Homo sapiens: one gene and its partner. The protein of the gene in region 1 interacts with the protein of each later gene in a biochemical or structural test. Each region holds a gene or a part of one and is shown on either strand. Other genes may lie near its edges.

What was found. Proteins that work in one complex are often made in the same cells at the same time.
Region 2: the proteins of PDLIM4 (region 1) and DOCK4 interact in a test that uses a peptide from one of them, tested with the Homo sapiens proteins (one large-scale study listed by IntAct).

Annotation. Positions count from the first base shown.
Region 1 is NC_000005.10:132,259,943-132,265,446, forward strand, and holds part of PDLIM4 (PDZ and LIM domain protein 4), read left to right. Parts: intron 1-2,666; coding exon 2,667-2,818; intron 2,819-5,504.
Region 2 is NC_000007.14:112,195,356-112,199,972, reverse strand, and holds part of DOCK4 (dedicator of cytokinesis protein 4), read left to right. Parts: intron 1-4,617. UniProt on the Homo sapiens protein: Functions as a guanine nucleotide exchange factor (GEF) that promotes the exchange of GDP to GTP, converting inactive GDP-bound small GTPases into their active GTP-bound form. Involved in regulation of adherens junction between cells.

The sequences.
Region 1 (5,504 bases):
CACCACCTTATTTATGCCCAGCCTCCTGTGGGGGCTTTACATGCCCTGTTTTTCTCAAATAGTCCTTACAACAGCCTTTAGAAGTAAGGACTCCCTCTGGCCTTACATAGATGGAGACCCAGGCACAGAGAGGCTAATGTAATCAACCTAGAGAAGCAGAGTGGAGACAGGAGGAATCCAGGCAGTCTGCAGTTTGCTGTGACTGTGTAGGACAATGTGGCACCTGGTTCTGACTTGGACTCCCAGCCCACCACATCTAGGCTGGGTGGAGCAGGGGCTGGGAATGCAGCCACTACCGGTAAGGGGCTGATTCATGCCCTCACCGCCCACCTGACTTCACTGTTCCTGTCTCTGTTCCTTCTTTCTGTTTATCCTGTGCTTAGGAGCTAGACGGATCGGCCTGAATTCCACTCTGTCCTGTGACTTCCCGCTTAGAGCCCTCCATGGTTCCCAGCCACCCAGGAGAAATGCCAGCTTCCCACCCGGGTGTACAAGACTCTGCAATATCTGATCCCTGCCTCTTCTCTGACTTCATCTCTCCCACTCTCCCCTCACTCATGATGCTCCGGCCATACAACCTTCCTTCTTCTTTCTCTCCAGATATGCCATTATACATGCTGGTCCTTCTGCCTGGAACACTATCTCTCCCTCAGATACTCTCTTTTCCCTTACCCCCTTTGGAAGAAAAATGCAGGTGTTAAGAGCATAGTTTTAAATTTGGAATCAGGTGGCCTGGATTGAAATCTTGATTCAGTCTTTTATCAATTAACTATCCTTCTGTACTTCTCTGGACCTCCGTTTCCTGATCTAGGAAATGGGCTTGCCTTCAGGATTAATGAGATAATGCATGTAAAGGTGACTGGGAGAGTCACAATTTCTTGGCCTCACGCCCTCTCTGACCAGAACTCCCCTAGCTCAATAGAGCTGGCAGCATCCCAGCCACCACTGCTTTCAAGAAACTTCCTCCGCCCACAGAAGCCTGAATGTACCCCTTGTGCTGGCTGAGTCATCCTGCCGCAGTTAGCCGCCCCCTGAAGAAAGACTCCTCTCCAGTGTGGGGACTGGGGCATGGCATCCCTCCCCCAAGCTTCTTTCTCTTCATCTGTAAAATAGGGATGAGAACAGCCTCTGCCTCACCAGGTGGTTGAGGGGTTGCTGTGAGCTAGTTATGGGTAAAGCATAGAGCCCAGGCCCTGGCACAAGGCAGGTATCCATGAAGGGGAGGAGGCAGAGGATGGCCTTGAGGGGAGGGTGGGATGGTGCCAAGTGGGTGTCTCCCCCAGGATGACAGGCTTGCACAGGTGCCCAGGCCCTACAAGTGAACATTAATGATGGGCTAGTTGGCTGAGGGTGTCATGCTTCAGAAGAACGTTTCCTTGAGGCAGCCTACTTCAGGGCAGGTCAGCTTGGGCAGTGCCAACACCAGGCCTCCAGCCAAGGAGCTGCCAGCACCTCAGCTTTGTCCACTCACTACTGAGACCTGGCTGAACTGAGCCTAGCTGGGCTTCCAGGAGTTCCCACCAGTAGGAGCTCCCACCCAAAAGAATGGGGTCACTGGCAGCTTTTGAACCAGCTGGGCACTGGCTGGAGAGGCTGGGTAAGAAATATATTTCTAAAGGCTATGTTGGGGTCAAGGCAGGGTGAGGGGTGCTCCATGGCCTGGATTCCCCTGAGTTGCTTACTTAGATATCTCTGTGAGTCTAACTCCACCCCCCATTCTAGCCTTCTTCAGTTGACCAGCATTGTAAGAGCTTCCAGGTGTGAACACTGCTTGACCCCGAGGGGTCAATAGTGGCACTGAGGTAGCCTGAGTTCCTGTCCTGCAGGGGAAGTAGAGGTAGAATTCTGACCCCCAAACGCAGGCTGTCAGCTGGAACTGGATGGCCCTGGACTTGCTCAGGGAGGTGATGTTCAGACCTTCCCATTTTAATTATAATGAAGTATTAACATGAACAGTGTAGGGGGAAAAGGTGGTCATGGGAGCACACTGGGTAGTGAGATCCCAGAGAGGCTCCCAGAGGAAGTGGCCTCTATGCTGAGATCTGAAGGATGAGGATGTGGGAGTCAAAGGAATGTTCCAGGTGGAGGGAGCAGCTTTTGCAGAAGTGTAGAGGTGAGTGATATATGGTGCCTGTGAGCACCCCATAGACATTCACATGGTCTGGACAGAGTGTGGGTGTGGAGGTGGGGATGAGAGTTGAAATCAAGCAAGTAGGAAGGCAAGGTCACTAAGGGTTTGAATATTAGGTCAAGGTGTGTAGTCTGTCTGGTTGGGGCCTTGTCTGTGTAGGGTATCTGTGATATGTCCATGCTGTGTATGTATCTGTGAGCACCTATGTCTCCATGTGTCTCTGTGTCCCCTGCATGTCCTTGGGCACATACGCAGGCTGCAAGAACAACATCCATTTGTCCCAGCCCTGAGGAAGCCCTTCTCGTATATCCTCATGCCCTGCCAGGCCTCCAGGTGCTGGAGTTGGAGGTGTTTCCAGCAAGGCTGCAGCCAGGCTACATGGGGACCTCAACCAGCCACTCGGCTTGCCCATCCACAGGCCATGCTGGTAGCAGGCCACACTGGCTAGGTTCTGAGGTTGGAGGAGGCCTAGGGCACAGCTTGCAGCAAGACCATATCATGACTGTGCCCAGCCATCTGGCTTGTCTGCTCGCAGGTCCATGCTGGCAGCAAGGCTGCATTGGCTGCCCTGTGCCCAGGAGACCTGATCCAGGCCATCAATGGTGAGAGCACAGAGCTCATGACACACCTGGAGGCACAGAACCGCATCAAGGGCTGCCACGATCACCTCACACTGTCTGTGAGCAGGTATGCACAGGTGGGCTGGGCTGGGAGGATGGAAGGACGAGGTGGGCAGTTATGGGCAGCTGGCATTTTGGGTGAGCCCAGCTTCACACAGCCTCTCTGCCTCAGCTCCTGGGTGCCCCATCCAGGAACAGTCCCAAGGAGTAGCACTTTCATGGGGGCCTGGCAGATACTGTTTAGAGTTATAGCTTAAGAAGGGAAGAAATCCCCTTTTAACTTAGACTAGAAGTGTGTTGGGGCACTTATGGCAAGTGTTGCAGGCAACTGAAATAAGACCTTGAATAGCCTCTGGGGCATTTGTTTCATTCCTTTCCCCTCCCCTGAGTGACCAGCTTGATGACCATTTCAAAGTAGTTTCTTGTGCAACACCTCATTTAACCCTCATTTACCAACTTAAAAAAGGGCTACTATAGTCCCCACTTCACAGATGAGACAAGTGAGGCTCAGAAAGGTTAGATGGTGCTTAAAGTCACACAGAGAGGGAGTGGGGTAGCAAAATTTGATTTTGGGGCTCTCTCCTAAGACTACAGACCCTTAACTTGGCTGCTGACTACTCCTACCAGCCCCTCAGCTGCCCTGCCACAGCTGTCGCCACCGTGGCCCACACCTCTGCCCTGGTTAAATCTGGATTTGGGAAAAGTTCCCACTAAGGACTGTGTAATGCTTTGCAGCCAATCAAGAAGGGGAGGACAGGGGGTTACCAAGCCCATCTGTGCTCCATAAATGATCCTGGGATAGAAGGTCCACTGGGGGTGGGGGTGGGGGGACCCAGCCTTGCTCAGGTCCTGGGTCTTTACTCAGCTCTGAGAAGCAGTTGGCCTAAGCCTGGCTGAGTGGGATCTCCCCACTCCCCTGCCCACCTTGATCCACAGAAGTCGGGCATAACTTATCAGCTCTGCCGTGTTCACTGCTGAGGGGATTTCCATGACCCCCTGTGGAAGTACGTGGGCAAAGCCTCCCCAAACCACAACACAGCTAACCATGCCTCTGAGCTGGCAGGGTGGGAGGTAAGCCACTGGCTTGGAGCCTTTAAACATGGTGGAGAGGCCTGTGAGGTCAGCCCTGTTTGTGCTTGGCCCTGGCACACGGTGAGGATGCTCCATCTTTGGAGTTCAGCAAAGCTGGTCCTCATCCAGCCTCTGGAGCCTTAGGTGCCCAGATGACCTCTATGAGCCCGGGGTTTCCTTTCCCATTAACGGATCACATTCATCACCCTCCTCCAGACTGAGATACAGGCTGGATGGGGGAAATGTCAGCATTGCTCTGCCCATGAGTGACCTCTGAAGCTTCCCCACTTGGCTGGGATCCTGGCCCCTGACTCACCTCCAGCCTTGACTCTGTGTGGCTGAACAAGGGCAGCCCTAGTGGTAGTGGAGTAGTGGGGAGGAGTGCCTCAGAGGGGGCCTGAGTCAGGAGCTTCTCAGAGTGTATGATGTCAGCGGAGGGTGGTGGGGTGGAGGTCCCCCTCCTTCTTTCCTTCCTTCCTTCCTTCCTTCCCCAGTCCTTTGTTCCAAACCAGGCATGGATGGAGCCAGAGGTCCACTGACCTGTTCCACTCTGAGCATTTCAGCCCCAAAATGTCACTGGCCATGGAGCAGATGAGAGCACATTCTCTACTATTACAGAGCTGGGTTGAGAATTATGCTCATAATTTTACCCATAAAAGAGAGAGAGGGAGAGATAACTATGCTGTGCTCCAGAAAGTGATTTAATCTCTTGAGCCCATAACTTCCTCAACCAAAAATATGGACCATCTTGCGCTCTGGACATTGAGTGATGATGTACCAGGCCTGCTCAGTCAGAGTGAAAACCTGAGTCCTGCCCTGCAGCCCCCTCACACATGCAGACTCTGGGGGATCAAGACATGAGGGCCACCTTGACTTTCTGAGCCAACATTTCTTCTCCTGGACACTTGCCCACCTGCAAGCTTTCTGACTCTGCTCCCTATCTTGCCTGCTATGCCAGGACCTATGCCTGGCCCCCAACGACACTCCTCCCCGCCCCCACCACACACACCCACACAGCAAGGGCTCTGCAGTAAATCAGCCTGTTGAGCTGGCTGGAGTGAGCTACCCTGTGCTCTCACTCCCAGGGTTCTACCCCAGACCAGCTTCCCTATCTGCCCTCTTGTGTACAGAGAGCTCTAATCCCCCCACCAACTCCCCCACAGAATGAAAAGTGTATCAAAGGCCCAGCTTCCCCACTGGGCTTCTTTTGCTTTGAGCCCAAAGCCAGGCATCCAACAATCCAAGCAAAATCACACTTCCTGGGCATGTTCTATAGGTCCAGGACCTTTCTGACATCAACTCCAACACTGAGGCCACTGATAGAGTCCCTGTTGTCCATCACATGTGGCCCAAGGTACCTTTGCACAGCCTACCCTTTGCCTGTCATTTTGTTTAAAGAGCCCAGCCTGGGATGGGGGTTGACACATGATTAAGCCCTTCATTCTGATCTGATGCATTGGGCCACATTAATGGCTCTGGGTACTTTGTGCCCTTCGACCTTAGACGTCAGGCTTGTACTGCTCTTCTGGGCAGAACTTCAGGGAAGTTGAAGGCCAAATAGCCACACAAGATGTCCCAGCTTTATCCCAGAGGAGTTCTGAGTAGATAGAGGCCACAGTTAGAGCTGTGAGTTAGGGTACCCACTTGGGAGCCTGGTTGAGGGGGCTAGAGACAGGGACTAT
Region 2 (4,617 bases), on another chromosome or scaffold:
GTCTAAGTCAAAGTCTGTCTTCTGTAGTATTTCTTATTAAAGATGGAACAAATATTTAAAGCCATCACATGCATTGCGTAAGTTTTCTCTTTTAGTACTTGTATGTCTTCCTACCAGGACCTTTTTGACAAGGATTACATAATGACCAATATTAGACTCTTCTGTATCATGTCCTTTGACAACACTCTCTGGTCACTATAACAGAAGAGTAAAGATAATGGTTTACTGAGGTACTTTGCCAGTTGTAGGTTTACCACTCACTATTCTTTTGTACCTTTTTTTATGTTGCTGATCATTATTAGAAAGACAAGGCAACTTGTATAACTTGTTTTATTAAAAAAGTGAACTATATGCTTATTTGGCTAGAGTATATAAGACAAAAAAATAAGGAATTAAAGTTCCCCAAGCCTAGCTTCATTTAAGCAACTTAAACTTACTTCAGGAACAACTCTTGGACTCTCTGGCATTTAAAAAAAATTGTGCCAAGATGACATTGGGTAACTACTAAGTAAATAAAAATCATCAAAAAAGTGGAATGCCTTTGGTAACGTAACTGCAGTAAAACTGATATGCAGTACCCTGAGGAATGTATGGTAATCATGATCCTTTTGGAAACTTTTATATAACTTTTATTGGAAACTGCAATATAAAATAGCATTTGTGGAGCACTTGCTACATGTCAAGCACAGTTCTAAGAGCTTGTCTTATATTGTCATTTAATCTTCATGATACCTCATGAAGGAGGATTCAGTTATCACTCATATTTCACAGGAAATTGAGTCATACAGGGATTAAGTAACTTATTTAAGGTCATACTGTAAATGGTGGAGCTAGGATTGGAACCTAAATTGTCTTGCATAGAAACTGTTCTCTTAGCCATTACGCCATGTTACCTAGTATGACAGTGGTTAGCAGAAGTTTGAATCAGTAATCCCACCCCTTAAAGTTTATGTGACAAAATAAATCAATAGCAACAAAACACTTTATGCACAGAGTTGTCCCTTGCCGTGTTGTCTGTGAAACAACTTACATGACCATGTAGTCGTTAAATCAGTTTTGGTTATGAGCACGTTGGAGCATCAGACAATCATGAAATGAAATATTTTCATAAACAACACTATTTCAAAAATATATTCCAGGTATCTAGTGTTAAATGACAAAAGAAGAGTAAATATAGACTATGATTAGAGCTACATAAAATGTGTAGCCTATAGAGAAGAGGCAGTCGATGCACAGATGAGAACAATTTTTTTGTTAGAATATATAGATTATCAGTAAGTTCTTTTTTAAAAAATCTGTTTGGAAATATGAGCAGTATTGAATTTTAAATTACACATTGTTATTTATGAAGGAAGAGGTGGCATAAAAATGAGTAAAGAGAGGCACTGCAGTAACTGAGGTGAGAGATAAGTCCATGAATCAGGTTAGCAGTCATTGTCATGGTGAAGTGTGGATAGATCTGAGAGATATTTAGGAAATGAAAGCAACAGGTTTGGTCATCAGATATGAGGAGTTAAAGTAAGGAAGGAGTTTAGGATGTTGTCTTAGCTCAGGATACTATAACAAATATAGACTGGATAGTTTAAACAAAAGAAATTTGTTTCTCACAGTTCCGCAGGCTAGGAAGTCCAAGATCAAGGTGTTGGCTGAGTCAGTTCCTGGTGAGGGCCTTCTTCCTGGTTTGCAGGTGGACATCTTCTTGCTGTATCTTCACGTGGGTAGGGGGAAGGGGTCATGGGGAGGAAAGGAAGCAAGCTTTCTCTCATCTCTTCTTATAAGGTCACGAATCCCATCATGAAGGCTCCCCCTCATGGCCTAATTACCTCCCCAAGTCCCCCATCTCCAAATACCATCACATTGAGGATTACAGTTTCAATATGTGAATTTTGGGGGCATATAAACGTGATTTATAGCAGATGTCTTCCTGTTTTTGGCTTGGGTGCCTGGATGAATACAGGTGCCATTCAACAAAAGAACCAACTTTTTTTTTTTTTTTTTTTTTCTAGGCAGGTCAGGCTTATGTAAGATGAAGATTTTTGTTTGGCCACCTTGAGTTTGAGATACCTGCAATTTTTGAGATACCTGCAAAACATTCAGGTGATGAGGTCTAGTAGAAAGTGAGTCTGCACCAAAAAAGAGAAGTTCTGTGCTGAAGAGTGTGATTAAAGATTATTTGGCTTAGGAGTGAAGGCTGAAGTAATGAGTCTAAATGAGACTTCGCTAATTGCTTTGACTTTGATTATGTATAGTCTGCCTGTTCATTCTAAGTTTTAACATGACAGACCCCAAATTTCAAACAGCAGTCATCTCGAGGCATTTTATTAATATGGGTACAAAGGATTCTCAAGTAAGAAATATTAGCTGTCCATTTAGAGTTGGTCGTAAACTACATTTTACAGTCTTTTCTTGCTTCCCTCTAGGGCGTTGCCTAGCTAAGGCATTAGTTATTTCTATGTCTGTGACAGTCTTCTCCCAAACAAATATTTCATGCCAGATTGTGCACGTTTGTGAGATTTCCCAGTAAGGATGTTGAAAAACAGAGTGCACGAATAATATTTCAATGAACAAGATTTATACATCCCTGAAACAGCATTTAAGAACACGCACCCATCTAAAAATGGAAAAATGCTTCAATATATAAAGCAATAGATTTGTACATACAGTTTTTTTTTTTTTTGGTAAATATATAATACCTCTTAGGAACCACAAGAATTCTTAAAGTTATACTATGGCACTCCTGAAAAATAAGTGACTTAAAGGAAGGAATTCTAGCTTATGATGGCACTAGGTTCCCTTCCCCTCATGTAGGCTCTCCTAACTAATCAGTGAAATAACAATAAATTCACAGAAAGAGGCAAACATTAATAATACTGAAAACTAAGTCTGACAGAACGTCTGTTGGCAAAATTCACGTGAAATTTCCCTAAGGCAGGTGGAACTGGTTGAAGAAAACCAATGTTTTCTTGGTTTTCAGTGGTACGGCGTGGTGATTATAGTTAACAATAATGTATACTTGAAATTTGCTAAGAGAATAGATTTAAGTATTCTCACTACAGGAAAAAAAGGGAACTGTGTGAGGTGCTAGATAGTTAATTAGTTTGATTGTGGTAATCATTTCACAATGTATGTGTGTATATTTAAGGTGATATCAACATCAGTTTGTACAACTTAAATATATACAATTTGTATTAGTTAACAATACCTCAATAAAGCTGGATTAAAAAGAGAAAAAAACCTATTGGTGGCTTCTTTTGGCTTTCCCTTATTAAACAGAGAGGCCTCAATGACTGGAAAGATGACAGGAAGACCCATTGCCCCTTCCCCACTCTCTGTCACCAGCTTAGAGACCAGGTCAATACATCCAACTTGGAGCACGCCATTTACTGCCGGAAGCATCTGTAATCCTTCTCTTTTCACCCCATCTTTTTAATTCTGTTGAGAGATGACCACTCTCAGAAACGAGCAGGACAGGAAGGTGGGTAGGTGGGTGGAAAGGGGTCTATAGAAGATGCCACTTCACCATTGAGAAGTGTACTGTGGTCTTCATAAGGACAGTGATTTTGTAGTTGCTTTGAAAGTATTGCAATAACAAAGCTTACTGGATAGTGTAGTTTTTCTGGCAGGGTATTGGTGACAGAGAAGGAGGTAGGGGGATAAGAGATGATTTCATCTGAATTGCCCTAAAACCGTGGTACATGGTATATAATAACTTACAACTGGGAACCTGGCTTGGAGCTGTACACATCAACTAGCCTTGAACGCAGATCTGAAAGTGGAATTGAACCCATACCTTTATTTTTAGCTCAGTCCTTCGCGTTGTAGAGAGGTTCGAGATCCAGGTTGCCTTAATCAGTGATCACATTTGCATCTCTATGGAAGCGGGAAGGCAACTAAATCTGGACAGGCATCTGTCACTTAGCAATGAACGAAAACATGGCTGTTTCTCAAGAAAACGGGAGAGTGAGGAAGAGGGGAGAGCATGACATTTACATGGGAGGCTTTTGGAAACTACTAACACATGTGTATTTGTTCTCCTCCCCCATTTGTGCCCCCTCGTGGGAGGGTGGTTGGTGAGAACCCTTCTGGATATGAAATTTGTAAGTTTTCCTGGTTGAATTTGCTAACAACTTATCTCCCAAGTTGTGAAACATTTTCCTAAACCAAGAAATTTGCTGTTTATTAGACTATCAATTGGACATTAACCAAAAATTTCTCCCTGAAGTCTTTAAGCAGAAACGTGGAGATTTGGTTCTATGTCTTATTTTTTTTTTTCTCCAAAATGGAATAATCTCATCCGTTGTTGGCAACCAGAAGTAGGCAGGTTTGGGAACGTGGGGATGCATGTACATAAGGCAACCGAAAATAGCCCCAACCGAGATCCTGGATGAAACATTATTCACTTTGTGGGGAGAGGAGAGAACCTGTTCTCCATTCTCCTCTGGTAGCCAAAGTTGGTTGAGGAGCTTGTAAAGCTGCCTTGATAACAGGCTCAGGGGTTAGCCAGGGTCTCAAAGAAATACGAAAACCCAAAACATCAACAGGCAGTTCTATAAAGAATGAAGAGAGAAGAAACCTCTGAGGTTTTCTCCAGTAGTCTGGATGAAAAACATTAAGATC